Linked DNA regions of Homo sapiens. The protein of the gene in region 4 interacts with the protein of the main gene of each other region in a biochemical or structural test. Each region holds a gene or a part of one and is shown on either strand. Other genes may lie near its edges. The genes, in order: GULP1, RGS12, ANKS1B and ITGB7.

Region 1 (8,270 bases), on a different chromosome or scaffold from region 4:
TTTAAAGAAATTCTACATAGTTTTAAAATAGAACAAAATAATTTAATTATTTTAATTAAGTTAATAAGACAAATACCCGTTTTTTGGCTAGAGGTTAATATATTTACCTCATACAGAACCTTTAAAAATCAATAAGAAAAAGAAAAAATATATGAAACAATAGAGAAAAGAGAAAAATGTACAGAATATATAAATAGCCACCTCACAAAAGAAAATATAAACGGTTATTAACTTTATGAAAACTTATTCAGTTTTATTAACAGTGAAAGTAATAAAAATTAAAGCGATTGAGCTGCTAATTTTTCACTAAGATTATTTGAAAATTTAAGTGTTTGGAGAAAAAAAATTAAGGGCCAAGATGGAATAGTTTACATGATGTCATTTAGGTAAACGAAAAATGCATATGAAAATAAATATTTTGAAAGAATACTTACAAAAAAGTAGTAGTATGGGCCGGGCGCAGTGTCTCACGCCTGTAAGCCCAGCACTTTGGGAGGCCGAGGCGGGCGGATGACGAGGTCAGGAGATCAAGACCATTCTGGCTACGGTGAAACCCCGTCTCTACTAAAAATAAAAAATAAAATAAAATAAAAAAATTAGCCGGGAGTGGTGGCGCGGCGCCTGTAGTTCCAGCTACTCAGGAGGCTGAGGCAGGAAAATGGCGTGAACCCGGGAGGCGGAGCTTGCCGTGAGCCGAGATCGCGCCACTGCACTCCAGCCTGGGCGACAGAGGGAGACTCCGTCTCAAAAAAAAAAAAAAAAAAAAAAAAAAAAGGAGTAGTATGTACGTTATACTTCCACATGAAAAAAATGGAAAGAAAATTGTTAAGTGTCTGTGGGTGCTGGGTAATGCCTTTCCTCTACTCCTGGTTTCCATGCAAAAATATTTTACTGGGTCTTTACTTACTTGCCCTTGGAGAGATGTTATGACATTTGGTAGATAAACTTAGGAATAAACTTGGGAAGAATTGCTGGGCATGCCAGGCTCAACTACCTTTCTCTCTCTTTCATTCTTTGGAATAGAACTCAAAAAACAATTTAAATCCTTTTTCAAAGGCACTGTCTCCTTTCAGGTTAGAAGGAGGCCAGGAACTACGTTGACTGAGGCTGCTGTTTCAGTTCTTTGCTTTTGGATCTACCAATTCAAATCCGTTATCTGTCAATCATAGAGTAATATTTTGCTCTCATTTTTTTGGTCAATTTATTCCCCACCCAGGCATAAAGAAGGGATACTATTTATCCGGGTCTCTCAGAGGCCTCAACAAACCTTGGAGCATATAGAGAAAATGTGAGCAATAGGTACTTTTGGTGATGGGAATACAGGTGATATTTATTTCCCTTTTGCAGTTGCCCTCCTATTTTTTTTTCTTTTTTTGCAATGGTCATGTTTCATGTTCTTAATCAAGAAGATCAAAATAAAGCGATTCTTTCAGAATGACAGATAAAATGATAGAGGTTTGAAGGTAAATGTAACACAGTAACTTTGGAACCCAGAGCCCCTAGGAACTCATAGGATATTTGGCCACTGTTACACATGACAAACAGAAACATGACCCCCTTTCAAATCACATGACTGAAATTTGAATTTCAGTCTTGGTTTTCATTACAGTTTTTAAAAAGTTGTCAAATACTTTAAATGTTGGTTTTGCAGAAATATAGGGCTAAACAACCAGCATATTTTTTGTGTGCTTTTGCAATAATCAGAAATAAAATTGGTTTTCTTAAGGTAAGTAACAGGTCGTTTTTTTGTCTTAGCCAAAGTTCCCTTAGTTAGGGTAAGAGAAACTTAATTCTGGTTTGAGCAAGAAAATTAATTTAAAAATACTGGAGGCCAGGCGTGGTGGCTCACACCTGTAATCCCAGCACTTTGGCAGGCCGAGGCGGGTGGATCACGAGGTCAGGAGATTGAGACCATCCTGGCTAGCAGAGTGAAATCTTGTCTCTACTAAAAATACAAAAAAAAAAAAAAAAAAAAAAAAAAATAGCCGGGCATGGTGGCGGCCGCCTGTAGTCCCAGCTACTCGGGCGGCTGAGGAAGGAGAACGGTGTGAACACGGAGGCGGAGCTTGCAGTGAGCCAAGATCGCACCACTGCACTCCAGCCTGGGCGACAAAGCAAGACTCCGCCTCAAAAAAAAAAAATAAATAAATAAATAAAAATAAAAATTACTGGAAAGCTGCTGAGTTTCTATCAGGGTCTATATGAACCTATGATGAATGTGAAGAACTTTCAAATGGAAATCTGAGGTATTTGCAGTAGGTAAAATTAGGCGTATTTGTCATCGTAGTGCCCTGCTAGGCTTCTGCAACCCTTTTCTTTGGCATCTCCCTTCTTCACTTCCTGGGGCATGCTATAAATTTGTTTTAAAATCTTGTTCCATTTGGTTCTATTGTTTTTAAAAACTTGGTTCTGACACTCTTGAGATTTTTATACCTCTAAGCCATTTCACAAAGAAGATCATATCAAAAGTCAGGTTATAAAAATTACAAAGCAATAGCAAGTTTAAAGACTTTAAACAGTGGGAGAAAATATAAAAGTGAGTAATCTTTAGCACTGTATGTAACGATTGGAAAAAGACAGTTATGAGGACTCATCTATCTTCATTTATCCATTCATGATGGATGTGCTTTGTAGCCATATTTTTTTTTCCCTCTTTAGGATCTTCCAAGTCTTATGGATAGGAAAGACAGATCTCTAAAGAGGCTATGATATGCCTTTAGGAAACTGAGGATGAGGCCGGAGTAGTAAATAACTCTTACTTAGAAGGAGTATATAGGGTCTCATCCCTGAGAACATGGGAGTTAGTTATGTAAATGTTCAGATGATTTTCAACATTGTATATGGTAAGGAAGAATTTTTTAAAAAGACCTTCTTACAGGTACTAGAGGCAAATGAATGAGAAATAAGTACATGCTATGGGATTTTCCATTATTTCACAGGATGGAAAGTTTGATCTCTGTAGCCTGATTTTGTTCTTTGGCCTTGAACTTGTTCAAGTTGAATTGTGTGTCCTGAACACTGATCTAGTTGTTCACAAACTAGGGTCAGCCAACTGTAGTGGTATGTTGATGTATTCTTGGGAATCGAGAGTTATTATAATCTTTTAATATTATGGCTAAAAAACCCAAAATATCTATGTGTAAATATATAATGTAAGCATGGATTCGTTCATCTCATCAACCTCCTTATTCCTAAATACTGGACTACCATTTGTTTTATTTTTATAATCACATTGATACCAAGTGATCATCTAAATGACATTATTTAATTTTTAATGATTGTTCATAAATTAATTGCTTAAGAGTTATTTACAGAAAAAAACTAGCATTTGTCCTGAGATTAATATTTTTAATATAATTATTTTTATGTGTGCTTGACTATTGTGATAAAGAGAAAAACAGTTAAAAGAGGACCCCAGCCAAGTTATTATGAGGACTGATTTCTGATATTAGCTTTAGTACCTCCAAACCATGAGATTTGGGGAAAGTCACTTAAGAGCCCTAGACTTCAGTTACCTTGTATTTAAAATAAGGGAGTTCAGCTGGAACTAGTTAATCTGTAAACATAGTTTCCATTTCAAAAATTGTGAAATGATGCCTTTTTAAATGGAAAAAGCATTAAGGAGAAGAAAACTGATTCAGTTACAGGGTCTTTGGGGGAAAATTTCTAGCACCACCCTCTCTCCTAATTACAGTAAAACATGGTGGGATATAAGAACCAAATATTTATTGAGTATTTTCTCTGCGCCTATCACAACTCTATTTTAACTCCTGTAAATGTGACTGTGACTCCGTGAGCTAGATTATAGAATTCCTGTTGACAGTTATAATTGGTAGGCACAGAAAGCGTAAAGATGGAGTTTGGAATGGAATCTGGCCTGTCTGACTCTAAGCCCTGGATCCACTGTAATACATTATAACTGCTAGCTTTGCAAAATGCCTTTTTCCTTTTCTCATCTATTTTCACACTCAAACTAAAATTTAGTAAACTAAATTCTGAGCAGCAGAAAAAATTTTAGTAAAGGTCCTCTCATCCTTGAAGAACTTCTTATATAAGGATACTCCTTCTTGCTCCCTTTCCCACGCAGAACTTTACCAAAGGTCAGTAAGAATGGGCTGTTGTGTTTTCTCTCAAATCCTATACAGAAGTCCTTAATTCCGAGGTAAACATCTGAATGGAACAAATGAGTATGATCTGGGGGTTAAGGCAATTTTCAAGTGTGTGTATGTGTGTGTCTGTTTTAAGGCATAACAAAGTCCAGAGATTAAGGCCGAGTTAAAAAACAAATGAGGACAAACCAATGAGGACAAACCAGTCCGCTGAGGTGCGGCCAGAGCAGCAGCAACTGTGGCTGCTTTCTTGATAAAGGCTGTGAAGACGGCACGTTTTACTCTTATTCGTGTATTTCTTTTGACACTTTACCCCTCTATGAAGCCTCAGAGGTGTTTTAAAATTGTGTTAGGAAACACACAGAGATAAGAAAAGGCAAATGGTCCTGATCTAGTGTCTCAGGGAAGAGGCTGGAAAGGAAACGCGGCGCGAGTGGGGTGGGAGAGGGGGCCTGTGGTTTTGCTTCTGTCCGGGCTGAAGACTGAGTAAGGTAGGGCCCCTCCTTCTGCGGATGGGTTTCTCTCTCATTCCACCCTCCACCCACCTCCGGTTCCGCGTGCACGCGCGAGATAGTCCAGTGGGCCCACAGATAACGACCATCAGAGATTAAAGAAGGAAAGTCAGCGAGCTTGAACACAGGCGTCCCGTGTGGAAATGTCCAAGGAGACCGCCAGAAGTGCGCAAGCCGGAGTCGGCTAGAGTTTCCTTCTCACCGAGAGGGGGAGCCCGGCGTTCCCGGCCGGGAGCGACCCGGAGTCCCCAGCCCCGCGTCCCAGCTGCCGCCAGCGCCAGTTTTGGATTCGGCGGATTAGGAAGAGGAGGGAGGGGGGAGAGAGCGCGAAGAGGGAGGGGACCGAAGCTGGAGGGTCCCGAGTCCAGCGCCGTGTTGGCGTAGAGAAACTTTCCCTCTCGGCCTCGGAGACGGCGCCCCGGCCGTGCCGGAGTGGAGATCGCCAGGCTCGGAGGAACCGGCAGCTCTCCACGCCCCTGCCCGAAGCCTGACCCGACTGCCTCTCTCAGTGAGGTACGGAGATTTATCTAGGCTCTTCCCTGGCTGCGAACCCAGGCTCCCTCCAGGTAGCGTGGAATCGCTTAGAAGCTGATATCCCGAGGGGCGGTGGGGGTGGACAGCTCCGGCCACCAGTGCCCGGGAAGGAGGGCGCGGGGCTGCGCGTAGCCGCTGGCCAGCAGGTTGTAAAAAATTAGGACAGCTAAATGCTCAGGGAGTCGTCCAGCACTAAAGGAGGCTAAGACCTGTTGACGCCTGCTATGGCAGCGCTTGAGAAATGACTGGGGGAGTCCAGCGAGGTCGGGGACGCAGCGGTCTCCGGGCTCCAGAAACCTCCTTAGCCTTTTGTGGTAACTTTGGTCCGGCGGCGGGGGGCCGGTGAGCAGGAACTGGAGGGAGGCGGTGGGGAAACCGTGGATCCGTCCGGCTGAGGGTGCGTGGATCAGACTGGGCTGAGCAGGCAAGTCATCGTCGGGTCACAGCGAGGCGACCCAGGAGCGAACTTCCAGGGCAGCCTCCCTTTTGTTGGCGCTGGGAGAGAATGTGGGCATGGGGGTGGGGAGGCGCGAAGCTCCGAGGCCGGGCCGCGGATACTTTAAAGCTCAGAGCTGGGAGGGCCCAAAGGAAGGGGCGGCGTCCACATGGTTACCCTTCTGCTGCGCGGGTCAAGTAGCTTCTTCTGGAGGGCGCAAGGCGCGGCGGGGGTGATGAGCCCTTGGGTTCTCGCTCCGACTGCTAAATTCGCTTGGCCGGGTCCACCTTCTCGTGGCCTCACTCGCCACACGGATCAGAATCCGGAGCAGGCAGTTCTCTCTATTCTGAGGCTCCTGCGGCTGCCGCGCTGACTTCCCTGTGTGCGGGAGGGAACTCTGGGCAGGCTGGTTTTCTTGGAATGTGTTTACGATGTTGAATGGGACTTGAACAGGAAGCTGGACGCTGCAGCTGGAACTAGCGTGCCAAGGTAGAGTAAGGAAGACTTAGCTGGTGTTGGGCTTGGCGGGTCCACTTGGTACGCTGGGCAAACTCCAAGTAAGTGAGGGCTGGCAGTCAAGGTACCCCTCCCTAGGTCCTAGTAGTGTTTCCCAACTGAGCTCGCCTTACTCATTTGCAATCAGACATTTTACATGCACTATTTCAATCTGCAAGTTTGACAAAGTGTAATGCAGTCAATTAGGAAGGATTTAATAAATTTATTTTGTGCCTGCTTTTAAAATACGTTACACCAACATTTGAGAATAAAAAGTTACGGAGAATGTTCAAGTCATGACTGATTTCTAGGACTAGCAGGAGACAATACTGATGATTTTGTGTCTGTATTACAAAATGGGTGATTAGGTGCTAAAGTAAGGGAGATTATTAGACAGAGTGAATGTGAGGAAGTGGAAAACTTTCAGAGGAATTGGAAATTCTTCAAATTTGCAAATTGCTCCCTTTCTCTGCCAGTCTTTCCCTTTTCCCCCCATATGAACAAGTAGCCTTGGCTGGAAAACCCACAAATTGGGAGAGTGCAGTCGCTGGTGACTACAGGCTTTGCTGGAAACAGCAGACAGGCTAAGGTACTGCCCCACTGCATAATTAAAGGTCTCCTTGAGCTGTCCAGGAGTGTTTTCCAAGTTTTTACGACTGACAAGGAAAAAAAGAGAGGAACCTGGCCGGCAGCCAAACTAGACTGAGCTCAGTAGCCAGGCATGAAAGAGACTGGGCAAGTTGCAGGGGCTAATTGGAAAGGGGCTGTCGGTTGCACTTGGGGTTTAAACAAGAGGTTTCTTTTGCAATGAGAATTTTTAGGTGGCTAAGATCAGTCTTCTTGGCAAAAAAATAAACTAAGCATAGAGTGCAGTTGGATATGACCGAGGAAATTACAAAAAGGGCTCCAGGAGCAAAGTCTGAACTTTCCTTATCAGTGTTGCAGTGGAATAGCTGGGGGCCTGATGCTGTTTGTGCTGATCATACTTTGCAAATGCCCACACTTTGTTGCTGTTTGTCTCCTTGGACGAGGTTTGCTGCAACTTCAATTCCTTGACTTCGGCCTTACTTTGTTTTCATAGCAGCAAGAATTGAAGACTTAAGGGTTTGAGCAGATGGTTTTCTACCTAAATTGAATAATTCAATTACGTATTCTCAGCTAGCATGGATTTGGGTCATGGAATTAAAGTAGAAACGTATCCGGCATGACTTCTTTGTGCTTATCAAAAGTGATCCTGATAAACAGATCTTGCTCTTTCATGTAAAGAAGTAAAAGGTGAGATGATCTCAGTATTTCACACATTTGCCCTTTACTGCTTCCTAATTCCAAACCAGCTAGGAACTCAAAGCCTTAACTGCAATTCAGACTCTTCTTTGTGTATTAAAGTTGTGTATGTTTCATCTCTCTTTTTTTTTTCTTCAGAGAGGTGGGTTGTAGGTTTACTATTGTGGGCTTAGGGGTTAAATGGTTAAAACAAACAAACAAACAAACAAACTAATGTGGTTTATATTTCCTCTGTATTTAAGAGTTTGAGATTGTGAATATTAGCCTGCTTTCTGAGACTCACTTTGTGAATCACCCTCAGCCAAATGTTTTCCCTGACTATGATTTCAGTTTTTCCACTTGCAAAGTAAAGAAACTTTCCTTTACATAATTACAAGATTATTGTGAGAATTAAAGAGATGAAATAATGTTAATAGGCTTTTCGACATAAAGGTCATAGGATTTCTGACTCAGCTGACTCAGTTGAGTTTATGGGGATAAAATAGGAATACTTCTATGTTGAATACCCATGTAATAATGACATATCTGGATCTAATTTATAAAAATTACCACTTTTACATTTTAATCATAGCTTTAATTTAATCATACATTTTAATTTTTGAGGATATAAGGGAGATTTTGTTATGGTTAAGGCTGAGTCATTTTCTCAAACAGAAAAGAACAATTAGCACATTCATTTATTTTTATTTCAGTTTATATTTATACACAAGACCAGTTATTTTTAAAGTCCAGCTTAATTTTACCTTTATGAGAAGTTACCAAGTATATTCACAGAACTTGGCTCTCTTCTCAGAAATAATGCTTGAGAAGCTGAAATATATTTATGACATACAAACAGACTTTCTTTTCTTAATGGCCACAACAATTTCCTTAAGAATTTGGAGGATAGATTTTGGAGCC
Region 2 (5,072 bases), on a different chromosome or scaffold from region 4:
TGACTGTGACCTGGCCTACCCCCATGTTCCCTCCAGGACTGGCCACCTGTGCCCATCTCAGCCCGCACTGCTGGAGCTCCGGCTTGAAGCCCCTCCCTGGGGTCTGCCACATGCACTCCTGTGCCCTCAGTCACCCCCACTCCCCTATTCCCCACTCCCCTATTCCCCACTCACCACACTGTGCACCCTGCTGGGCGCTGTCCACTCCCTCGCCAATGCCCAGCAAATATTTGAGGAGCTCTATCCCAGCCCCAGCCCATCACACACAGTCATGATCCTGGCTGGGGACCCACACGGACAGGGGGACCTTGGGGGGGTCACACTCTGGAACTAAGGTTCTGGGGGTGCTCTCGTTCCCATGGGGGCCCATCAGCAGGAGTGCACAGGCCTTAGCAGGAGCCCGTGGGGTGCGCTGTGGTGGGAAGGCTGGGAAGGGAAGGGGCCTTGGGAGCCACAGTGGATTGTAGGGTCCCCGCCTCTGGCTCCCCTCGCTCCCCCCTTCCTGCCGTGTTCTCAGTGTGAGCCGGCTCAGCCTTGCCTGGGTGTCCTTGTGCCCTGCGAGCTTCCAAGGGGCGCTGGGGAGGCTTCACAGAGGAGGTGGCTGCGCTTGGCAGCACAGATGATGTGGAGCATGGAGGCAGAGGCTGAGCAAAGTGCCTGGGGGACGGGGTCCCTCGGGGGGCAGGAAGGGCGGGCAGTGGGAGAGGTGCCAGGCCTGGGTCTCGAAGGAGAGCCTGGGAGAGTTCAGGCCATGCCCCTGCCCCGGCCAGGCCAGTGCAGCCCCTGCTCCCGCTGTGCCTGCCAGGGTTCCTGACTCAGCTTTGAGGACCAGGGTGGGGCGGGGTCCTGCCCCAGGCCTAGGCCAGAGCAGCTGGCAGTGGCTGGCACAGAGACATTCATGGACAAGTGTCTGGGAGGCCTGGGGGCGACCGGCAGCCGGTGAGGGGCCTGCGCATGTGGAAAGAGGGGCCTTCCTGCTGCATCTTGTGGGGCCTCCAGCAGGACCCCCTCCTGGGAAGGCTGGACAGCACAGTCGGAGCCGGCAGGACCAGCCAGCCGAGGGCAGGGAGCCGTGGGGCGCCGGGGAGAGGTTCACAGGTGGCCCAAGCGGCAGGGAACAAGATCCCAGTGTGGCCTCAGGTCTGGATGTTTGGAGATGTGGCACCAGGAGTGAGACCAGGAGGCCAGGCCCCTCTGGAGGTGGTGCAGGCTCTGCTGGGTCCTCTGTGTTGCCATCCCTGCCAGGGAAATGCTGGGCAAGAAGGTGCTCCCCGGGCAGGCCCTGGCATGTAGGTGGTGAGGCAGCGTGCTGCTCAGGGCGGGGCCAGGCAGCTGAGTCACAGGCCTGGGGCTGGCTGCCCTGCACAGGAGGGCGAGGCTGGCTCCCGTAGGCAGGAAGGGCCTGGCTGTGGCCCCCTCCTTGTGATGTGGACATCCTTGGTCCATACAGAGCTGTCCTGTCTCCAGAAACAAGTGTTTCTCCATCCTGAGCACACTAGCTTCCTGGGGCCCTCAGGGGCCTGTCCTCCCATCTGTCCATGTGGGGCTGGCGGGGTAGAGCCGGGCTTCTGGACATGTGTGGTGTTGCAGGCCCCTTCAGAGCCCTATGAACACTCCAGGCAAATGCCCAAATGCCCACGGTATTGACCGGCGAGAGGGGGCAAACCCCTGCCTCTCCCCACACGATATCTCCCAGCCCTGCAGCCTGGCATCTGGAGCCATGCGGACCTGGTGACAAGAAGGAGATGGGCAGAACTGTCCCCTTGTCCCCTGGGGGCAGGGCTAGCTCCTAGCCCTGGCAGAACCTAGTAGGACACTTGTTGAATGAGCAGAGGCCTGACTGGGAGAAGTTTCTAGTCTCAGCTGCTCCACATGGACCCCTGGGCCTCCAGATGGCATCTCCACCGGGCCTGGCTGAGTAAGACACACAGGCCCCACACAGCTCCCACATGCTGGCTGGGCTGCTGCGTCGAGGCCAGGATGAGGGCCTCTGGGGCCACTGCTGGGACCTGTTCAAGAGAACGGGCTGGGCACGCTCAAGAGGGGAGTCACACCTTCCGCCCGCAGCCCGGACTTGTTCACAGATGCCTCATGGAGGCTGCTTCCGGAAGCTTGGACTGAGGGTGAGGAGGGGCACGCTGGGATTGGGGACCTTGGTGGCCACGGAGCCGCTGGGGCAGCAAGGACCCTGCGGCCATTTCAGGGACCTCAGAACTGTAGATCGAGGAGGGTCTTCACCTTCCCAGGCCTTCGATTCACCTGTGGAGGGCAGCAGTTGGTAGCAGGGACCCCCTGTCCCTGGTTCTCATGTGCCGGGGGCTGGCTCTTCCTGCCTCCTGTCTGCTGTGGGCCCAGGCCTGGGGCTCCTGCCACCCCATAGGCGCCTCAAGGCCTCCACCCTGGCATGGACATGACTGTCTCAGGGCCTCAGCCCCAGGCTCACTGAGGAAGGGAGCTCCTGGACCCCTGCCTAGGAGACACGCTAGGTACGCAGGAACCTGCCCCCGAAGCCTGCTCCTCTGGGTCGGCAACGTCACCCCCACCGCACAGATGGGGGGGTGGGGTCACTGGGCGGGTCGGCAACGTCACCCCCACCGTACAGATGGGGGGGTGGGGTCAGTGGGCGGGAAGGGCTGGGCTCTCCCAGCACGGGGGCTTCACTGCCCCTTCCCAGGCCCTGGGGTCCTGCCATGGAGCTCCGGGCGGCACATGAACCCAGCCATTCTGCGTGCACCGTTCACTTTCCTTGGCCCCAGCCTTCGTTGGCCCCTGGGGACTCCACCCTGGCATAGACACAACTGTGTCTTCCAGGGGTCCACGTGGAGGTCACCAGATGTGGCAGGGCAGTGACGCCCTGGGTAGGGAGGCCTCCCGGGGGTGCTGGCAAGGAGATGGCCTGCCCATGTTGGGTCTAGAAGCTTCCAAGGCCGGTTCAGGCAGCCGGGATCTCCTGGGGCTGGAGTGGGCATTGGAGCCAGAAGTGGGGCAAGAGTCACTGACCAGCCGGAAAGAGGGGCCTCAGTAGGGGGGCCAGGGATGGAGGGGGAGGGGACACGACCGGGAGGCCCAGAGCAGGGTGTGTACGGTGAAGACGGTGCTGAGGCAGCGAGGCAGGTGGGCGAGCAGGTGGCCAGCCTGGCAGGGTGGGATGGGGCAGCAGACACAGGGCTCAGGGCCCGTTCCACCAGGCCAAGAGGGTCCAGCCTATCTGGAACTGAACCCTAGTGCTCAGCCCCCTGGGGGTGGCCCTTGAGGATGGGCCCTGGGCCTGGGGGGGCCCCTGAGGACGCCCCCAGGAGGAATTAGGGGGGCAGTTGGGGCGGGGGCTCTGCCGGGGGCCCAGCTCTGTTCCTGAGCTGCAGTGGGGAAGCAGGGTGGTAGGGTTTCTGAGTGGGTCGGCTCCCCCACTTGGTGGCAGGTGTTATGTGGAGGGCTCTGGGAACACTGCACCTCCCCTGGGCGTACCTGCCCCAGCCTGGAGGCCCACAGCGGGACGCCAGCTGCCTCTGGGATGTGTTTGGGATATTTCAGGGACCCCTACCATGCTGTCTGTGCAGGGGCCTTCGGGGTAGGGGGTGGGTTCCGGGGGCCCAGGGCCGGGCCAGGCAAGTGACAGCTTCTCTTCTCCTTGTGACAGGAAGTGGGACCCATGGCAGCCGAGACCTCCCAGTCAACAGAATCATCGATGTGGATCTTGTAACTGGCTCGGCGCCCGGGCGGGATGGTGGCATAGCGGGGGCACAGGCTGGCCCTGGGAGGTCGCAGGCCAGTGGTGGGCCTCCTACATCAGACCTCCCTGGCTTGGGCCCCGTCCCGGGTGAGCCTGCTAAGCCCAAGACCAGCGCTCACCACGCCACCTTCGTCTGAGCTGCCCTGGCCTGGCCAACTCTCCTGTGGACATGTCGGGGTGGGGCAGCCCAGGTGGATTCTGTGGGCCTCAGGGGGGCCACCCTGGCCACCACACCCTCAGGAGCCCAGCCAGGAGGGCAGGGGGTGACCTCGCTGGAGGCACTGGCCCCGGACATTCGCCATGCTGGCCATGGGGCTCCCTGGCCCTGGCCTCCTGCTGCCCAATAAAGCATTTCTGAGGACCCAAGCGTCGGCCTGGTGCTGGGTGCTGGGGACACAGACTCCTCGTTCTCGGGGACTCCGAGCACATCCCCAGGAGGTCATGCAGGAAACAGAGGGGCCTGAGGAGGAGAAGTGCCCCAGGGTAAGGTCAAGGGGGCTTTGAGGAGAGGGAAGCTTGGCTCCTGGGGCCTGAGGGCCAGGACCAGATGGCAGAGACTGGCTCTCGCCGTCACGTGGGGACCCTGCCCCAGCCTTGTTTAGCAGGGTGGTCTGAGGGCCTTTCTGGGGAGGGACCATGTAAACTGCAACTGGACGGCAGAGGAAGTCTAGAAAGAGCCCTGGGCCTGTGCCAAGGCCCTGGGGCTAAGGAGGGTCTGATTACAGAAAGGGAACCAGGTGTGGCTGCAGGGGAGGCCGGGGCCTTGGGGGCTGGGTTGAGTCGGAAGAGGCAGGGCCATTCCCCAGGTTGCCTTGATGGAACCCCTAAAGCCAAGTACCCTCGGTACAGGGTGGTTGGTGAGCTCCTCAGACCATCCTAGAGGCCCGAGAGCACAGCCAGTCCCCTGGGGCTGTTCTAGAAGCTTCCAGGGAGTGGATGCACCCCACTTAGTGGTGCTCTAGGAAGGGGGCTGGGGGAGGGGTCGGAATGGAAGATGAAGCCCAGTGCCAGCTGTGTGTACCACCCACCACAAGCCCGCATCCATCCTGCTCCCAGCACCCACCATGCCTCCACATTCACCGTGCCCCCAGGGCCCACCATGACCTCCCCCCCAACCCCCAACCCCCCATTCACCGTGCCCCCAGCACCCACCATGCCTCCACATTCACCGTGCCCCCAGGGCCCACCATGACCTCCCCCCCAACCCCCAACCCCCCATTCACCGTGCCCCAGGGCCCACCATGACCTCCCCCCCAACCCCCAACCCCCCATTCACCGTGCCCCCAGGGCCCACCACGCCTCCATGTGCACTGTGCCCCCTGGGGCCCACGGTGTCAAGCTG
Region 3 (7,679 bases), about 47 Mb from region 4:
CTTTAAACTTGCTTTTATCCATCTTATACTGAATAGTGTCTGAAGAAAATGAGAGTTGAAATTGTATTCTTTGGGCAATCATTTGCATAAAATGACATTCCTAAGAAGGCACATTTTATTTAGTTGTCACTTTATTTCAAAAATGATTGTCATCAGAAATTTATTGGCAGGATAATGGAAAATGTGTCCCCCGTCAAACATAATGACACTTTGAAATTTCTTAATGTTTTAGAAGGAACTGTAGAATATGTTTGGCACTTTTTCCCCGCTTGCTTTATTACCTGGGTTGTGTAATAATGGTGTCAGACCCTATGCTAAGTGCTTACACGTGTCATCTCATTCAATTCTTGTGTCAGCCTTAGGAGGTCCATTGTCATTTCACAGATGAAGGAATAAAAAGATAAGATTAAGGACTTGCCCATGGTCACTTAATTAATAATGGCAAAGATTTGAAAATCTGTGATTCAGATTTGTTTTACAACATTTTAAGTCTCATTCATTGAATCTGTTTTATTCACAAAAGTTTAAAGGTATGTGGCCAATTTAGACAGGCCAATCTGAACATTTTTTGCTATGAAGAATAATTTGAAATTCCTTAAATTTTGGTATTTTTTTCTAATTAAAAAAATCTCACAACTGCCCTTTGAGGGTTCACTAGACAAGAACTTTTCTGAAGATGCTTCTGATTACTTGTTATCTACTGGTAATAAGAAATTATCCTTTCAACAGTAACTATGTAATGGGGAATCAGGTATGCTTTTGGGTGGCACTGCAATTTTCAGCAAATGTAAGAATGCCATTGAATAAATTTAAAAACCTCTCTAAGCCTCACTATTCTATCAGAGTGGAAATAGTAATAATAGTACCTATCATATAAGATCATTATAAGGATTAAATGAAGTATAAAGTAATGAATGCAAAACATTTAGCATATAGGTGTTCATCGTTAGTGTTAATATTTTTCATGCACCTCTAAAGCACTTGACTGTATTCTTTAAGGCCTTAATGACTAAAGATTTGCTTCCTATTGGACTGGGAGTAAATTTCCCATAGCAATCATAGAATCGTCAAATAAGGAGGGAACTTTCTTCCAACTTCTCACCTAGTGCGGAAATTTTCTCTGTAACATTTCTTACCTGTTAGTTATTCCAGCCCTGTTAAACCTTCCAATGACTAGATTCATTCTATTTTTGACAGCTGTAATTATTTTAAAATTTTTCTTTTCATTGAGCTAAAATCCACTTCCCTGTGACTTTCAGCAATTGGTAGTAGATTGGCTGTATGGGTCAATATAAAGCAGTCTAATTCATCTGCAGGATAGTTCTTTAGATGCATGTATTTTTGTTTTCTTATAAGTATTTTTCATGGAAGAGCTATCATCTCTGTTAACCTTTTATATGGCAAGACAGCATAGATGTTAAGAACTTAGTTTTCATACTTTTCTCTACTCTCTCTTTCCTTCTTTACATATTCTCAAATTTTGCAATGACCCTCTTAAAGTATGGTGACTAGAAATTCACAAAATGCAGTAGATGTCCCTTGACCAGAGTAGAACATTATGGCTGAATAAGAAAACCAAGGACAGCAGGTTACAAGAAGCATTTATAGTATGATCTTATTTTTGCAAGAAAAAATAAGTTTGTTTGAACACTTATAATGTGCTTAAGAAGTCTGGAATGATAAGATGCCAAAATGAAGATAGTATTCATCTTTGAGTGGTGGAATTGTGGTTGGGCTTTATTTTCAGTGTTCTGTAATGAATATGTATTATGTAATTAAAATAAAATAGCAGCTATTAAAACATGATACAATGAAATTATTATCTCTTTATTATTGATCTAAGACCTACCTACAGGTCAAGATTTTCTGGGCCATGTAATGGTGTTGGCTCATGTTGAACATACAGTCAATTAAAATTTCCTGGTATTTTTTTTTTTCAATGACCTGTGAAGCCAGGTCCCCTTTCTGGTACTTTTAAAAGTGTTGATTGAGCTTAAATTATTCCTGTTCCTTTTTATCTGATTTGTTTTATGTTGTATTTGTAATTTCTCTATATCTTTTTGACTCTTTTTTTTCTTCTTTCTGACTCTTGAGTCTGTCTTTCAGCGTATTAACTTCTCTCCCCTGTATCATCCAGAGATGTAATAAGCATGTTTTCTATAACCTAAATTCAACACACTGTGCTATATCCCCAAAGCACCTCTCTTCAACTTAGTATAAATTTAAAAGTAACAGTCTTTACTCATGGTATTTCTACCAGGATTGAAGCCACGCAATGACAATCAGCTATTTCTCTCCATTGTTCCTGTGAGAATATTGTGAGGTATTTTATCTACTGCCTTTCTAAATTCACACTGTATTTAAGTGTATGGCATTCTTTTGATCTATCCTTTAAATTCCATCAAAATCAGTCTACTTTATTATGGCTTGTTTCTGGCAGTGAGCCATTGGTAATTCCTAGTATTGGCAAAAATTCCTTCTACCCTCTTGCATCTAATTCTTCTGGGTCTGGATATGCATACTTATTTAAAGCAGCTTACTGTCCCTTATGGTCTCGTTTGGACCTTCAGTAATCTCCTGAAGTTATTTGTTTATCCCTTCTGATTTGAAAATGGTTCTCAATAGGGAAAATAGAAGCAAAATAAAAGTTGGGAAGAATTAGATTCTTGGCATTGTTAGATATCATAGAAAATTATCTTGTGGTTTAAAACTACCCACAGTTTTCCTTTTACTCTGCCAGAACTGAAGGTGAAATTAGTGAACTGTTACACCTCTTTTCTCTTTTTCAAACTTAGCTAAAAAGGACATTAGCATTTTTCCTGGACAAGTATATATTTCTTTTTTTGTGTTTGCTTGCAGTTATACCTCTTACTACCCCCTTTCATCCTTAAAGAAATCTGAGCTCATCAGAGCACTAAAATTGAGTTGCCTCCCTCCTTTTCTTCCTCTACATTTTATGTGAAATTTCAGTTTATTTAACATATCTTTTATGAGACAGCTGCAAAATCTTAAAAAAAAACCTCTCTTCCTTTGGCACAACTACCTTTTATTCTAAACAAAACTAATTTCCATTTAAAATGTATATTTAATTAATTTTTTGCTGAGTATAGGATAGAGAATTATTTGTATTTTAATACAGTGATAAAACTTTATTAATGCCTCAATTTATTTGATTTTCTTAATGCCTCGAAGAGTTGAGTTTTATATAAGGTGTATTTAGTAAATTCTTGTCAGAAATAAATAATACAGTTCTTAAGATCCCCATGTGAAAAAGTAGATCAATAAGAAGTGGAGCAAAACAATCTTCTGGTCACCAAAAACATAAAAACCAGAGAGCTTATAATTTTTCAGATTTAGGATTCAGCTCATGTCATTTTGGTGATGAATACAGGGAGATAACAGACAACTAGGAAGTACTGTAATTTTCACAACTATTTGGGCAATTGTGGTTATTGGGACCCTGATATAAGAAACTCACTTTCAGGGAAACTGCATTGGTTAAATGGAATAAATCACAAATAGAGCAGTTAAGCTCCATGAAAATGTTATATCTATAAAAATAGTCAAGTTGCAAGTGGGTTATCTATTTTAGATAGTAATGATGTTTGAAGTGGTGATTGCACCATTATGTTCAGGGAGCTGTATCTGCCAGAGTGAACAGTGCCAGCTGCATGATGGGGAGTAAGGAGAAAGGAGGGTGAATTTTGGTATTGACCTCTTTCTCCACTGAGCAGGGTTTTCAGCTCCCTTTTCAAAACACTGAGGGTGATGTGTAGCAGTGAACTAGGGCAGCCAGCCAGTGACTACTACTCAACCTGTCCATCCATTGCACAGTTTCTTGTGTGACTCGATTTCTTACAGATGACAAAGGCTGATGCAAGTCTTCACTGACATTAAGGCAGAAGCATATAATATTTATTAGTGCCTCTGCTGACTTTAGCAACTTAACCTTTCAGGTGACAGTAAACAATTTGATTAGTTCAGTTATATACTGAAATAATTTTGAGGTAATTTTGGAAAATTCTATCAGAAGCCTATGATAGAACATTATTCCTGAGTATTTAACTAGAAATGGAAGCTGACTATAATGCCAGACAAAGGTTAGAAAAGACTAATTTCAACCTATGGAACCTGAAGATATTTAACACTTAATGCATTTTAGAGTGTCTTTAGTTTCCGTTTTGGACATATTGCAGAATGATGTTAGTTAATTAAAATACAGTGAGTTTTTATTACTCATCATATGTTGATATGGGAGAATATTTTATATTTGAAAAAGGAATTTACAAAGAAGACGCTTCTATCTTCCAGTTCTTTCTCATGCATGTGAGGACATGGTTATGTAAGCCGTACGGGCAGGCAGAGGCACAATGCCAGTTGAAAACTCATTGAATTTTCTTGTGTAATACAGATCTAGAAACTTTTCTTAAGAGTCTACTTTTCTTCTTTGGTGTCAGTAGGATATCAAATACATTTTACATTTGTGTTAAATCTGGATGAGGCTTTTAATTGATATTTGAAGATGGATCAAAAAATATGACCAAAGGATAAATTTTGTTTTCCACAGTGCTATGATTTGAGTGTTGTCTCCAAAACTCATGTTGAAATTTATTTGTCATTGTGACAGTATGAAGAGATGGGATCTGTCTGGACGTGGTGGCTCACACCTGTAATCGCAGGCTTTGGGAGGCTGAGACGGGAGTATCACTTGAGGCCAGGGGTTCAAGAATAGCCTAGGCAACATAGTGAGACCCTGTCTCTATAAAAAACAAAACAAAACAAAATGGCCAGGTGTGGCATTGCACGTCTGTAGCCCCAACTACTTGAGAGGCTGGGTGGGGAGAATTGCTTGAACCCAGGAGTTTGAGGCTGCAGTGAGCAATGATCATGCCCCTGAACTCCAGCCTAGGTGACAGAGTGAGACCCTACTCAAAATAAAAACAAAACAAACAGGTGAGATCTTTTAGAGGTGATTAGGCCATGAGGGCTCTGCATGTATGAATGGATTAATGCCATTATTGTGGGAGTGGGTTAGGTGTCATGGGAGGCTCCTCACAAAATAATGAGTTCAGCCCAATTTCCTCTTTCTGTTGCCCATGCTTGCTTGCCCTTCTGCCTTCTGCCATGGGATGATGCAATAAGAAGGTCCTCACCAAATGCTGAGCAAATGCTAGTACCATGCTCTTTTACTTCCCAGCATCCAGAAATGTGAATCACAAAAACATACATTGTTTGTAAACTACCCAGTCTCAGGTACTCTCTTATAGGAACACAAAATAGACTAAGACACTCTGTTTCTTCTACTGCACTGTCCAGAGTGTTCATCTCTGAATCTGATTCTTATGAATCATGTTTCTTATTAAATGACATGTCTTCATGGATCTAGTTGTGAAATGGAACTTTGATTAAGCTGTGCAGTAGAGTTATTTGGATTCTATTGTGTTATGAGAGTAGCTTTATTTGAAGTGGTTAATCACTTCTAGTTAACTGAACTGAAACAAACTGCTTAGACTTGTTACCATTCTTTGATCAAATTGGATCAAATCTTGATTGATGGATGTGAGCATAAACAGCCAACCTCCTTTCCTGTTTCTATTTCCCACACCACATTCCCTTTAACCCTCCTCAATCACATCTCAGAAAAAAAGCGTTTTTTTCTAATTACTACAAGTTCACCCTGGCTCCAGTTTTTGTGCCAGCTGGCATCATCTCTAGATTCCAGCCTATCTGAATATTTAAAAAAAATTTTCAACAGATTTTAGATACAGGAAGTATGTATGTAGATTAGTTACATGGAAATATTGCATGACACTGAGGTTTGGAGCATGGATCCTGTCACCTAGGTAGTGAGCATAGTACCTAATAGGCTGTTTTTTAATCTACCCCCCTTCCACCCTCTAGTAGTCCACTGTGTCTTTCGTTCCCTTATTTATGTCCACATATGCTTTATATTTAGCTCCCACTTATAAGTGAGAACATGTGGTATTTGGTCTTCTGTTCCTGTGTTAATTTTCTTAGGATTATGGCCTCCAGCTCCATCCATGTTGCTGCAGAGGACATGGATTCATTCTTTTTTATGGCTACCTAGTATTCCATGGTGTATATGTACCACATTTTCTTGTCCAGTCTACCATTGATGGGCATCTAGATTGATTCCATGTCTTTGCTATTGTGCATAGCACAGCAATGAACATGAATGCATGTGTCTTTTTGGTAGAATGATTTATTTTCTTTTGGGTATATACACAGCAATGGGATTGCTGGGTCGAATGGTAGCAATTTTAGGTTCTTTGAGAAATCTCTGTACTACCTTCCACACTGACAGACAACCTACAGAATGGGAGAAGATATTTGCAATCTGTGTATCTGACAAAGGCCTAATATCCAGAAGCTATAGGGAACTTAAGTCAACAAGCAAAAAACAAGTAACTCTATTAAAAAATGAGTAAAGTACATGAACAGACATTTCTCAAAAGAAGACATACAAGTGGCCAACAAACATAAAAAATGCTCAGCATCACTAGTTATCAGAGAAATGCAAATCAAAACCACAGTGAGAGATAGCATCTCACACTAGTCAGAATGGCTGTTATTTAAAAGTCGAAAGACAATAGATGCTGGTGAGGCTGCAGAGGAAAGGGAATGCTTATACCTCAATGTTAATTTATCCTCTAACGTCATGGACCCAGTGCCTTTTCTTTCCTTTCTTTACCACCAAAAAGTGTTTGTGGGACCTGACAGTTAATTCATAGTGAAGTTGTAATTGATTGGTAAAGCTTTTAGAAAGAAGCAGCTCTTTTCGTATTTTCATTTAAAGAGGCAACAAAACATTAGGCCAAAATAGTAAAGCCATCGACCTCTTCTGGCAGAACAAATGGAGTGGATTTTGCCAGGCTCGTAAGAGAATGTTGGATACAGGTGGTAATTCTTCCATTTTTTTGGAGACAAGTTCTCACTCTGTCACCCAGGCCGGGGTGCTGTGGTGCAATCACAGCTTACTGCAGCCTCATTGCCCCCCAGGGTCAAGTGATTCTCATGTCTTAGACCCCAAGTAGCTGGGACTACCAGCATGTGCCACCATGCCCAACCAATTTTTTGATTTTTTTTTATAAGGACAGAGCCTCACTGTTCCTCAAACTCCTGCCATACATAGTGATTCTTCTGATGAATCTGTGCAAAGTAAATTGAAAACCTTCTGGAAAGGATTGACCATGCTAGACACCATTAAGAACATTTGTGGGCCAGGCACAGTGGCTCATGCCCGTAATCCCAGCTCTTTGGGAGGCCAAGGTAGGAGGATCACTTGAATCCAGGAGTTCAAGACCAACTTGGGCAACATAGGGAAACCCTGTCTGTTGGGGTCTGTTGTTGAGGGCTCAAGTGATCCTCCTGCCTTGCTGTTCTTGAACTCCTGGGTTGGTCTCGAACTCCTGGGATCAAGCCATCCTCCTGACTTGGCCTCCCAAAGTTCTGGGATTATAGGTGTGAACCACCATGCCTGGCTAATTCTTCCTTCTTAAAGGCTGAAGGGGAAGGGATTTGACTGGAGACATGAGAAATGAGAGAGTATATGGCTGGTGATAGAAAAGTATTTTCTTTTTGCTACTCATTTAGTCTCTAGAATTTTTTATTGGATTATATAAACCCATTTTAGATATAAACATATATTATTTGCCTAT
Region 4 (8,531 bases):
GCAAGACCCTGCCTCTAAAACAACAACAACAACAACAACACAACAAAAAAAACCTGTAACATATACAGTGTACTTAGAATTGTGCTGAATTAAAAATTCCATTCTGCAGTTGCAGTAGTCACATTTCAGATTGCCACATGTGGCCAATGACTACTGTATTCCTATCATTGCAAAGTTCTATTGGACAGTCCAGGCTTAGAAGGATGTCTGGAACATAGTGTTTGATAAATATTAGCTGTGGTAATAAATGTTATTAAGAGAACAGGACTAGGAACAAGTGACAAGCTCTGGACATTCGAGAGTGGGGTACTTGGGGAGTGGGGTTGGAAGTTGTGTGCATTGCGCTCGCTGAAGAGACAGCCTGAAAGAATGGGATGAATGGGCAGCAAGCCTGGTAGAGAAGGCCAGGTAGAGGTTCCAGGCAGAGGAGTGGCACCCAGGAAGCCTAGTGAGAAGAGGATGAGCTGGGGACGGAGAGGTGGTGGGCCTGTGCTGGGCGCCCCCTAGGGGAGTCAGGGGCAGTTGAGAAAGGTTAGGGAGATGGCCTTAAGGGCCATGTGCCTCTGTCCTCCTGAGCCTCTCTCTTTCTCTCTCCATTGTAGGAGCTGAAAGGGCCATTACTCTGAAGATGGAGATTCCAGGCCCGATGCCTCCCTTAATCCGAGAGATGCTGGAGAACCCTGAAATGTTTGAGGATGACTCCTCGCAGCCTGGTCCCCACCCCAATGCCTCTAGCGAGGATGAGGTTCCTGGGGGCCAGGGCAAAGGGGGCCTGAAGTCCCCAGCCTGACCAGGGCCCCTGACCTCCCCGCTGTGGGGGTTGGGGCTTCAGGCAGCAGACTGACCATCTCCCAGACCGCCAGTGACTGGGGGAGGACCTGCTCTGCCCTCTCCCCACCCCTTCCAATGAGCTCCTTGTTTTTGCCAAAGTTTCTAGGGGTGCCTCTGTGTTCATCCCCTTCCTGATCTAACCGGCTCCCTCGCCAGTCCCGGGGGCCTGCCCTGCTCCCACCAGGAGAGAGGGCAAAGGGATGAGCCTGGGTTTGGACTCTAAAATCTCAGCACTGCCCCATGGGTCCTAGACTTCCCAGGGCAAGAGGAAGACCCTGCCATTCCACAGCCCCTTCCTCTGCCAGGTGCTTGGCTCTCTGAGAGCAAACAGGAACACTAGAGACCAAAAAGGGGACAAAGGAGAAGGGCTGAGCCCACCTTCTTGCTCCTACCCTTGGTGCCTAATGCTGTGTGATGCACCTGCAGGGTGTGTGCTAGCCTCTGTGCCCCGTCCTTGTGCCAGGTCAAGGTGGGGGCAGGCTGGGCCCTGCATTTCTGGGGCAGGAACAGAGGGTGAAAGGGACAGATAGATGCAGGTCCATTCTGCACCTCTTGGCTCGGGTGCAGAGTTCACCCTGTGCCCTCCGTTATAAGTCCCTCCCCCAGCCCTGTCATGTGCCTTGGGCTCCTCCTGCCCTCCATCTCAGCCATTGGGGCAGGGACCCTCCTACACTACAGAGGGGCCAGGGGATCCCTCTCTCCCTAGTGCCTTCCACCCTTTACTCCCCAGAGCAGCTTGGCCCAGGGAGGGGGGATGCTGCTTAGCTGATCCCGCCCTGACCCAGAGGAAGCCTCTATTTATTTATTAGCTTTTGTTTACACCGTGGAATTGACCCCTTCCTCCAGGGGTCTTGGGTGGGGGAGCCCAGGGCCCCTGTGACCCCTCCTTTCTTCCTCCAATCCCCAGTTTGTATTTAGCTGCCAAATAAGATTCCCATTGGCTCCCTGTGTTCTCTTGGGGGGTCAGGGTGCTGTCCCCTCCCCTCTGTTTACATCTCCCCTCTACCCCGCTGTATCGCATATTGCTGAGTTTTCTATTTTTGCAAAATAAAGTGATGGAAACTCATGAGATGTGGCTCCCTTTAGGAGGTGGTAGGGAAATGACCAGCTGACCTGGTGAGGGAGCTGAGTGAGGAGGGAAAGCTTGTAATTGATTGGACTTTGCAGCTTTCTTGGTAGAAGAAAACAGGATGAAGTGTGCCTGGATTGTGGTGGGGACAGGATGGGGGAAAGGGAGCCCATGGGGACTCACCCTGAGTGACCGGGTTTCCCACAACCACCAGGTGTGGGTTCAGAATCTCACTCTGTCGCCCATGCTGGAGTGCAGTGGTGTGATCTCGGCTTACTGTAACCTCCACTTCCCAGGTTCAAGCAATTCTCTTGCCTCAGCCTCCCGAGTAGCTGCAATTACAGGGGTGCACCACCACGCCCAGCTAATTTTTTTTATTTTTAGTAGAGACAGGTTTCGCCATGTTGGCCAGGCTGGTCTCGAACTCCTGACCTCAGGTGATCCGCCTGCCTTGGACTCCCAAAGTGCTGGGATTACAGGCGTGAGCCACTGCGTCTAGCTTGGTGTGGGTTCTTATGTTGGATCCTGTGGATCTCTGGGAGGGCATGAATGGACTTCAGAGGTCTGTAAGCCTGTCTCCACCTCCAGTTATGCATATGTGCATATCTGCTTTTCTCTGGGGAAGGAGTCCATTGAAGTTTTATTTATCTTTTTGTTTTTCATTTTTTTTCTTGAGACGGAATTTCACTCCTGTTGCCCAGTCTGGAGTGCAGTGGTGTGATCTTGGCTCACTGCAACTTCTGCCTCCCGGGTTCAAGCGATTCTCCTGCCTCAGCCTCCCAAGTAGCTGGGATTACAGGGGCGCACCACCATGCTCAGCTAATTTTTGTATTTTTAGTAGAGATGGGGTTTCACCATGTTGGCTAGGCTGGTCTCGAACTCCTGACCTCAAGTGATCCACCTACTTCAGCCTCCCAAAGTGTTGAGATTACAGGCGTGAGCCACCATGCCTGCCCTGAAGTTTCATTTAGTTCTCATGAGGGCTCCTGGCCCCAGAAGAGAAGAAGCCCGCATCTAAGCTACAGTGTTACTGTTTTACACCAGCCCCTCACCCAGGGAGCCCTCTGGCCTTCTGTCCCCAACCACCCTGCTATCACCTTATACCTTACTCCCCCCACCCTCTCTGTTCCCACTCTTCACCCCATGACCTCCACTCACTGCCACCTGCACTGTTACCTTCTTTCCGAATATCTGTCCTTGCTCCCACACGCCTTCCCTCTGCAACACGCCTTTGCAGTGCCTTTGGCCTCTACTGCTGCACCCTGTACTCTTCCCTTCGCCCTCTGTGACTCCCCTCAAGCCCCTCCTCCGTGTCCTACCTTCCCTGGGACAGTGCCTTGCCTACCTTGTTCCTGGCTCTCTTCATTGGTGACCTGTGGTTATGACAAAAAAGTTGAGGATGTGGGAGTAGGGGAGAGAAGAGTGGAGGGCGGAAAGCAGAAGAAGAAAGTGAAAGAAGCTCTAGAGGAAACCACAGGGCCTGTGGGGAAGGAGGGTCATTGCCGTGGTAACCCCTGGTTGTGGGGGAAGGGTATAGGTCCTGGCTATCCCATAGCCTGAGGCCAGCCAAGCCCACCCAGAGAAAGAGCCCCTCCTCTCCAATTGTCCCCTCCTAGCAGCTACACCTCTGCAATCCATCTGACATTTATTGAGCACCTACTATAAGATGGGCACTTGGCTAGGTGTGGTGGCTCCAGCAGGGAAGCCTTGTAGAGCCAGTCCCTGCCTACAAGGAGTGCTCCTTCTGGTAGGGGAGATCGACCTGTGAACACAGACCTCATGTCTAGTTCCCTCTCAAAGCTCTTAGTGATCTGTATGGGCCAGGAGCAAATCCCATTAATATTTTCCTGCTCTCCCTACGGGCTTCATCCTTGCCTTGGCTTCAGCTGTTGTTCCTGCACTCTCTGCTTCTCCCAGTTCACCTCCTCCACCCCTTTCCCAGGATCCACTACTGTGTTGGCTCCTGGTTCCCCAATCACATGCTCTGAGCCTGGCCCTATGCCTCTCTCTTCCAAGTTTCCAGTTGTGTGGACCTTGAATTTCTCAAAGCCTCTTCACTTCTCACCTCTGCTACTTCTCATCCCTACTAATTCTCTTATCAAGCCCTTACTTAGTATGTGCCAGGTAGTCTTGTAGGCAATTGATATGAATTATCTCTTTTAATTCTCACGACAATCCTGTGAGTCTTGCTGGACAGATGAGAAAACAGCTGCAGGCAGGTTTAAGTAACTCAGCTAAGCTCCTTACTACTAGTAAGTAGTAGAGCCAGGATTTGAACTCTAGCAACTTGGCTCCAGAGCCTATGTAGTCAAGCACACTTATATAATGTATCCTGGGTTTTCAAAATGAACAAGTCTGTAATTTCTGGCCTCTCTACAGTACTTACTGCCCCTATTCCCTCCTATCATGTTCCTTCCTATATAAGTAAATGGAGAGATCATGAATTTTGGAGGCAGGCAGACCTGGATTTAAATCCCAGACCAGCCGAGTGTGCCTGTAATCCCAGCTACTCAGGAGGCCAAAGTGGGAGGATTGCTTGAGTCCAGGAGTTACAGACCAGCCTGGGCAACACAGCAAGACCCTGTCTCAAAAATAAAAAACAGGCTGGGCATGGTGGCCCACACCTGTAATCCCAGCACTTTGGGAGGCCGAGGTGGGCAGATCAATTGAGGTCAAGAGTTTGAGACCAGCCTGGCCAACATGGTGAAACCCCGTCTCTATTAAGAATATAAAACGTTGCTGGGCATGGTAGTGCACCCCTGTAATCCCAGCTATTCGGGAGGCTGAGGCAGGAGAATCGCTTGAACCTGGGAGGCGGAGTTTGCAGTGAGCTGAGATTGTGCCATGGGACAGTGAGCTGAGATTGTGCCTGGGAAACAGAGCAAGACCCTGTCTCAAAAGTTAAATTAAATTAAAATAAAAAAAATAAAATAATAAAAATTTAAAATAAAAATCTTTTTTCTTTTTTTTTTTTAAATCCTAGACTAGCTACTTACTAGCTGTGGGACCTTGGGCAAAATTCTTTATTTCCTGCTTCCAAGCCTCAATCTCTGCATCTGTAAAATTGGGGCTTGGGGGAATATTAACCCCTATCTTATGAGATTGTTGTGAGGGTTAATTGTAATATGTTACGTTCAACACATGACAGGGGTTCAATAAATGGGCTTCTTTCTTCCAGATCTCTGTATTGTCCACTCCCTTGGCTCAGCCCCACCCCTATCTGCACCACCTTCTAGATCAGTCACCCCCACCAACCCCAAATCTTCCCCACCCTGGGGAGTGTCACTTCCTCCTCTGCCGTCTCCCAGATCAGTACACAAAGGCTGCTGCTGCCGCCAGAGGAAGGACTGCTCTGCACGCACCTGTGAGTACCAGGGCACCAGCCCTTCTGCCTCCTCTCCTTACAAGCTCTGGCCCACCTGGTCCCAACCTCTTGGGAAGAGGGCTCTGACCTGGATACCGAGGGTCCTGTCCAGACTTGAGAAAGGCTCTGAACTCCTTTCTGCATTCCTAAGATCCCCTGACCTGGTTCCCTCCTCCAGTTTCACAGTACCCCCACCTCCACCTCTCCAAAAGCCCAATCTCTCCTGCATCAGTTTCCCATGAGTGGGTCTGGAGGCAGGGATGTATATGAGTGCTGTCATCTGAGTGCCTGCCATGTGCCAAGGACTATACCGAAGTAGGGCAGGTATACCGATTATACTGAGGGAGGGTTCTTCCAACATCACCCCCAGCTGCTATCCCTAATGCTCTGCCTTCAGCTCAGACTTCTTCCTAATCGGCACCTTGGTCACAGACTCCACTGTCCTGGGACACTGAGGCCCAGCAGCTCAGTTCCGTCCCCTCCTTGTGACTCCCAGTGGGCAGCAGAGGGTTCTGCTTGATTTGGAAGGTAGGGATGGGTTTGGAAGAGGCTCTGTTTCTCAGCTGCTGAGGGGGGTCACAGGGTGTGTACTGGAGTCAGAATGGAGTCCAGAAAAATGGAAATAACCACTTGGTCCCAGAGAGAGAAGGGAAGACTGCAGAATACCCCTAAGGAAAGAGAAATGGGATTAGGCAGAGCCCACCAGGGCTAGTGGGGAGAGAACACAACTTTTGATGGAGATAGTGCCTGGGTTGGAGGGAGGAAAGGAGAAAGCACAGCAGAGGCCTGGCCCTGCCCTGTCCTGCCCTGCCCCTAGTTCACTGGGTGACCCTGGCCTCATGGAATTTAGGTTTCCATTTGTAAAAAGAGTGGGATGGAGTAGTAGATTCAGCCATTCTATAGTTAGGAACAGAGGGGAAAAGGAAGTAAAATAGCCCTATGAAGAAGTGGAGCAGAGAAAAGCAGCAGAGAGATGCAATAGAAGTTTTGAAATGAAAGGAGCCAGAGAGAGACAGAGAAGCAGACAGAGAAATAGGTGGCAGAACATGTATTCTCAAGGAGGGGAGAAGAGAGGATAATTGGAAAGAAAGGTAGGAAAGGGCTGTCCAGGAAGTCCCAGGGCCCCCTTTAAGGGGAGATGAGTGGGCCTAAGGTCTCTGAAAAACCTATGCGGCAGCCGGGGCTCCACTTGTGAGAGATGAGTCAAAACCCGGCTTTGGGTTGCAGCATCTCCAGCCTCCCTGACCACAGGCATGCAGAGCAAGCAGGGCTGAGGTTACGCTGAGGCTGAGCTGGGACTGGCCTCTCCCCGAGGGGTGGAGGCTCCGTTATATATGGCGCCTGAGGTCACAGGTGGTGGGGAGCAGGACCAGGACATTCAAGGACTCAACACCCCACCCCTTTCCCACACTCTGTGCAGAGTATCTGGACCTGACTCTGGGCCCAGGCTGAAGAAGATGCAAATGGTTTATGACAAGGAGTTAGTTGGCCTTTCTCATACATTGCTGATGGGAATGTGGACCAGTACAAGTCCTGAAGAGTTTATGTTGGCAATACCCACCTATATATATATATTTCTTAGCATGAGAATGTAGATGAAATACACACCAGTATTACAAATGATACCTATCTAGTTATCCTGCACGTCCTCTGCTAGGGATTTATCCTACAGATTCAGTTGCAGACGTGTGAAATGATAAATACATGACATTTGGCTGGGGGTGATGGCTCACGCCTGTAATCACGGCAATTTGGGAGGCCGAGGCAGGTGGGTCGCTTGAGCTCAGGAGTTCTAGACCAGCCTGGGCAACATGGGGAAGCCCCATCTCTGCAAAATAATACAAAAATAATTAGCCAGACATGGTAGCATGCGCCTGTAGTACCAGCTACTCGGGAGGCTGAGGTGGAAGGATCAATTGAGCCGGCAAGGTCAAGGCAGCAGTGAGCCATGATTGCACCAGTACACTACAGCCGGGTGACAGAGCAAGACCCTATCTCTCAAATGAATAAATAAATAAATACATACATTACTTTTCATTTCAGCATTATTTGTCATAGGGAACTAGAAACAATTTAAGGCCAGGCACAGTGGCTCATGCCTGTAATTCCAGCACTTTGGGAGGCCGAGGTGGGTGGATCACTTGAAGTCAGGGGTTCGAGACCAGCCTGGCCAACATAGTGAAACTCTGTCTCTACTAAAAACACAAAAATTAGCTGGGTGTGGTGGCTCACACCTGTAATCCCAGCTACTCAGGAGGATGAGGCACACGACTCACTTGAACCCAGGAGGCAGAGGTTGTACATCACGCCACTGCATTCCAGCCTGGTCGACAGAGTGGGACTCTGCCAAAAAAAAAAAAAAAAAAAAGGTAAAGAAAAAAGAAACAAAGATAGTAGTAAATGATATTTATTTAGGGTAGGTGTGGGAACTGGGTATGGCATATGGAGTAGGAGATTTCTCACCATCTTATTTAACTTTTTGATTTTTAAAATGGTAAGATACACAAACATTTATCATTTTTACCCCTTTTAAGTGTACAATTCAGTGGCATTAAGTACATTCACTAATTCCAGAACTTATTCATCACCCTAAAATGAAACTGCCCATTAAGCAGTCATTCCCCACTTCCCCTTCTCCCAAGCTCTGGTAACCACTAATCTACCTTCTGTCTCTGTGGATTTTTCTAGTTTGGATATGTTCCATATGTGGAATCATACAATATGTGACCTTTCATGAATGGTTTTGTTCACTGAGCATGTTTTCAAGGTTCATCCATGTTGTAGCATGTATGTATCAGTACTTCATTTTTTTTTTTTTTTTGAGACCGAGTTTTGCTCTTGTTGCCCAGGCTGGAATGAAATGGCACAATCTCGGCTCACTGCAACCTCCGCCTCCTGGGTTCAAGCGATTTTCCTGCCTCAGCCTCCCAAGTAGCTAGGGTTACAGGAGACCACCACCATGCCTGGATAATTTTTGTATTTTTAGTAGATATGGGGTTTCACCATGTTGGTATGGCTGGTTTTGAACTCCTGATCTCAAGTGATCCACCCGCCTCGGCCTCCCAAAGTGCTGGGATTACAGTCGTGAGCCACTGTGCCCAGACCCATTTCATTGCTTTTTATGGCCAAATAACGTTCTGCTGTATGGATATACCACCTTTTCTTTATCCATTCATCAGTTGATGGACATCTGGGTTCTTTCTACCTTTTAGCTATTGTGAGTAGTGCTGCTGTGAACATTTCTGTACCAGTTTTTGTTTGAACACC

The links.
Region 1: the proteins of ITGB7 (region 4) and GULP1 form a complex in vitro, tested with the Homo sapiens proteins (one study listed by IntAct).
Region 2: the proteins of ITGB7 (region 4) and RGS12 form a complex in vitro, tested with the Homo sapiens proteins (one study listed by IntAct).
Region 3: the proteins of ITGB7 (region 4) and ANKS1B form a complex in vitro, tested with the Homo sapiens proteins (one study listed by IntAct).

Annotation. Positions count from the first base shown.
Region 1 is NC_000002.12:188,287,033-188,295,302, forward strand, and holds the start of GULP1 (PTB domain-containing engulfment adapter protein 1), read left to right. Parts: upstream 1-4,841; 5' UTR 4,842-5,134; exon of another isoform or gene 5,135-5,579; intron 5,580-5,795; exon of another isoform or gene 5,796-6,148; intron 6,149-7,167; exon of another isoform or gene 7,168-7,361; intron 7,362-8,270. UniProt on the Homo sapiens protein: May function as an adapter protein. Required for efficient phagocytosis of apoptotic cells. Modulates cellular glycosphingolipid and cholesterol transport. May play a role in the internalization and endosomal trafficking of various LRP1 ligands, such as PSAP.
Region 2 is NC_000004.12:3,435,818-3,440,889, forward strand, and holds the end of RGS12 (regulator of G-protein signaling 12), read left to right. Parts: intron 1-3,637; coding exon 3,638-3,867; 3' UTR 3,868-4,096; downstream 4,097-5,072. UniProt on the Homo sapiens protein: Regulates G protein-coupled receptor signaling cascades. Inhibits signal transduction by increasing the GTPase activity of G protein alpha subunits, thereby driving them into their inactive GDP-bound form.
Region 3 is NC_000012.12:99,974,415-99,982,093, reverse strand, and holds part of ANKS1B (ankyrin repeat and sterile alpha motif domain-containing protein 1B), read left to right. Parts: intron 1-7,679. UniProt on the Homo sapiens protein: Isoform 2 may participate in the regulation of nucleoplasmic coilin protein interactions in neuronal and transformed cells. Isoform 3 can regulate global protein synthesis by altering nucleolar numbers.
Region 4 is NC_000012.12:53,203,935-53,212,465, reverse strand, and holds the start of ITGB7 (integrin beta-7 isoform a precursor), read left to right. Parts: upstream 1-5,214; 5' UTR 5,215-5,264; intron 5,265-5,661; exon of another isoform or gene 5,662-5,792; intron 5,793-8,531. Other genes in the region: RARG (retinoic acid receptor gamma), read left to right, coding at 603-790. UniProt on the Homo sapiens protein: Integrin ITGA4/ITGB7 (alpha-4/beta-7) (Peyer patches-specific homing receptor LPAM-1) is an adhesion molecule that mediates lymphocyte migration and homing to gut-associated lymphoid tissue (GALT).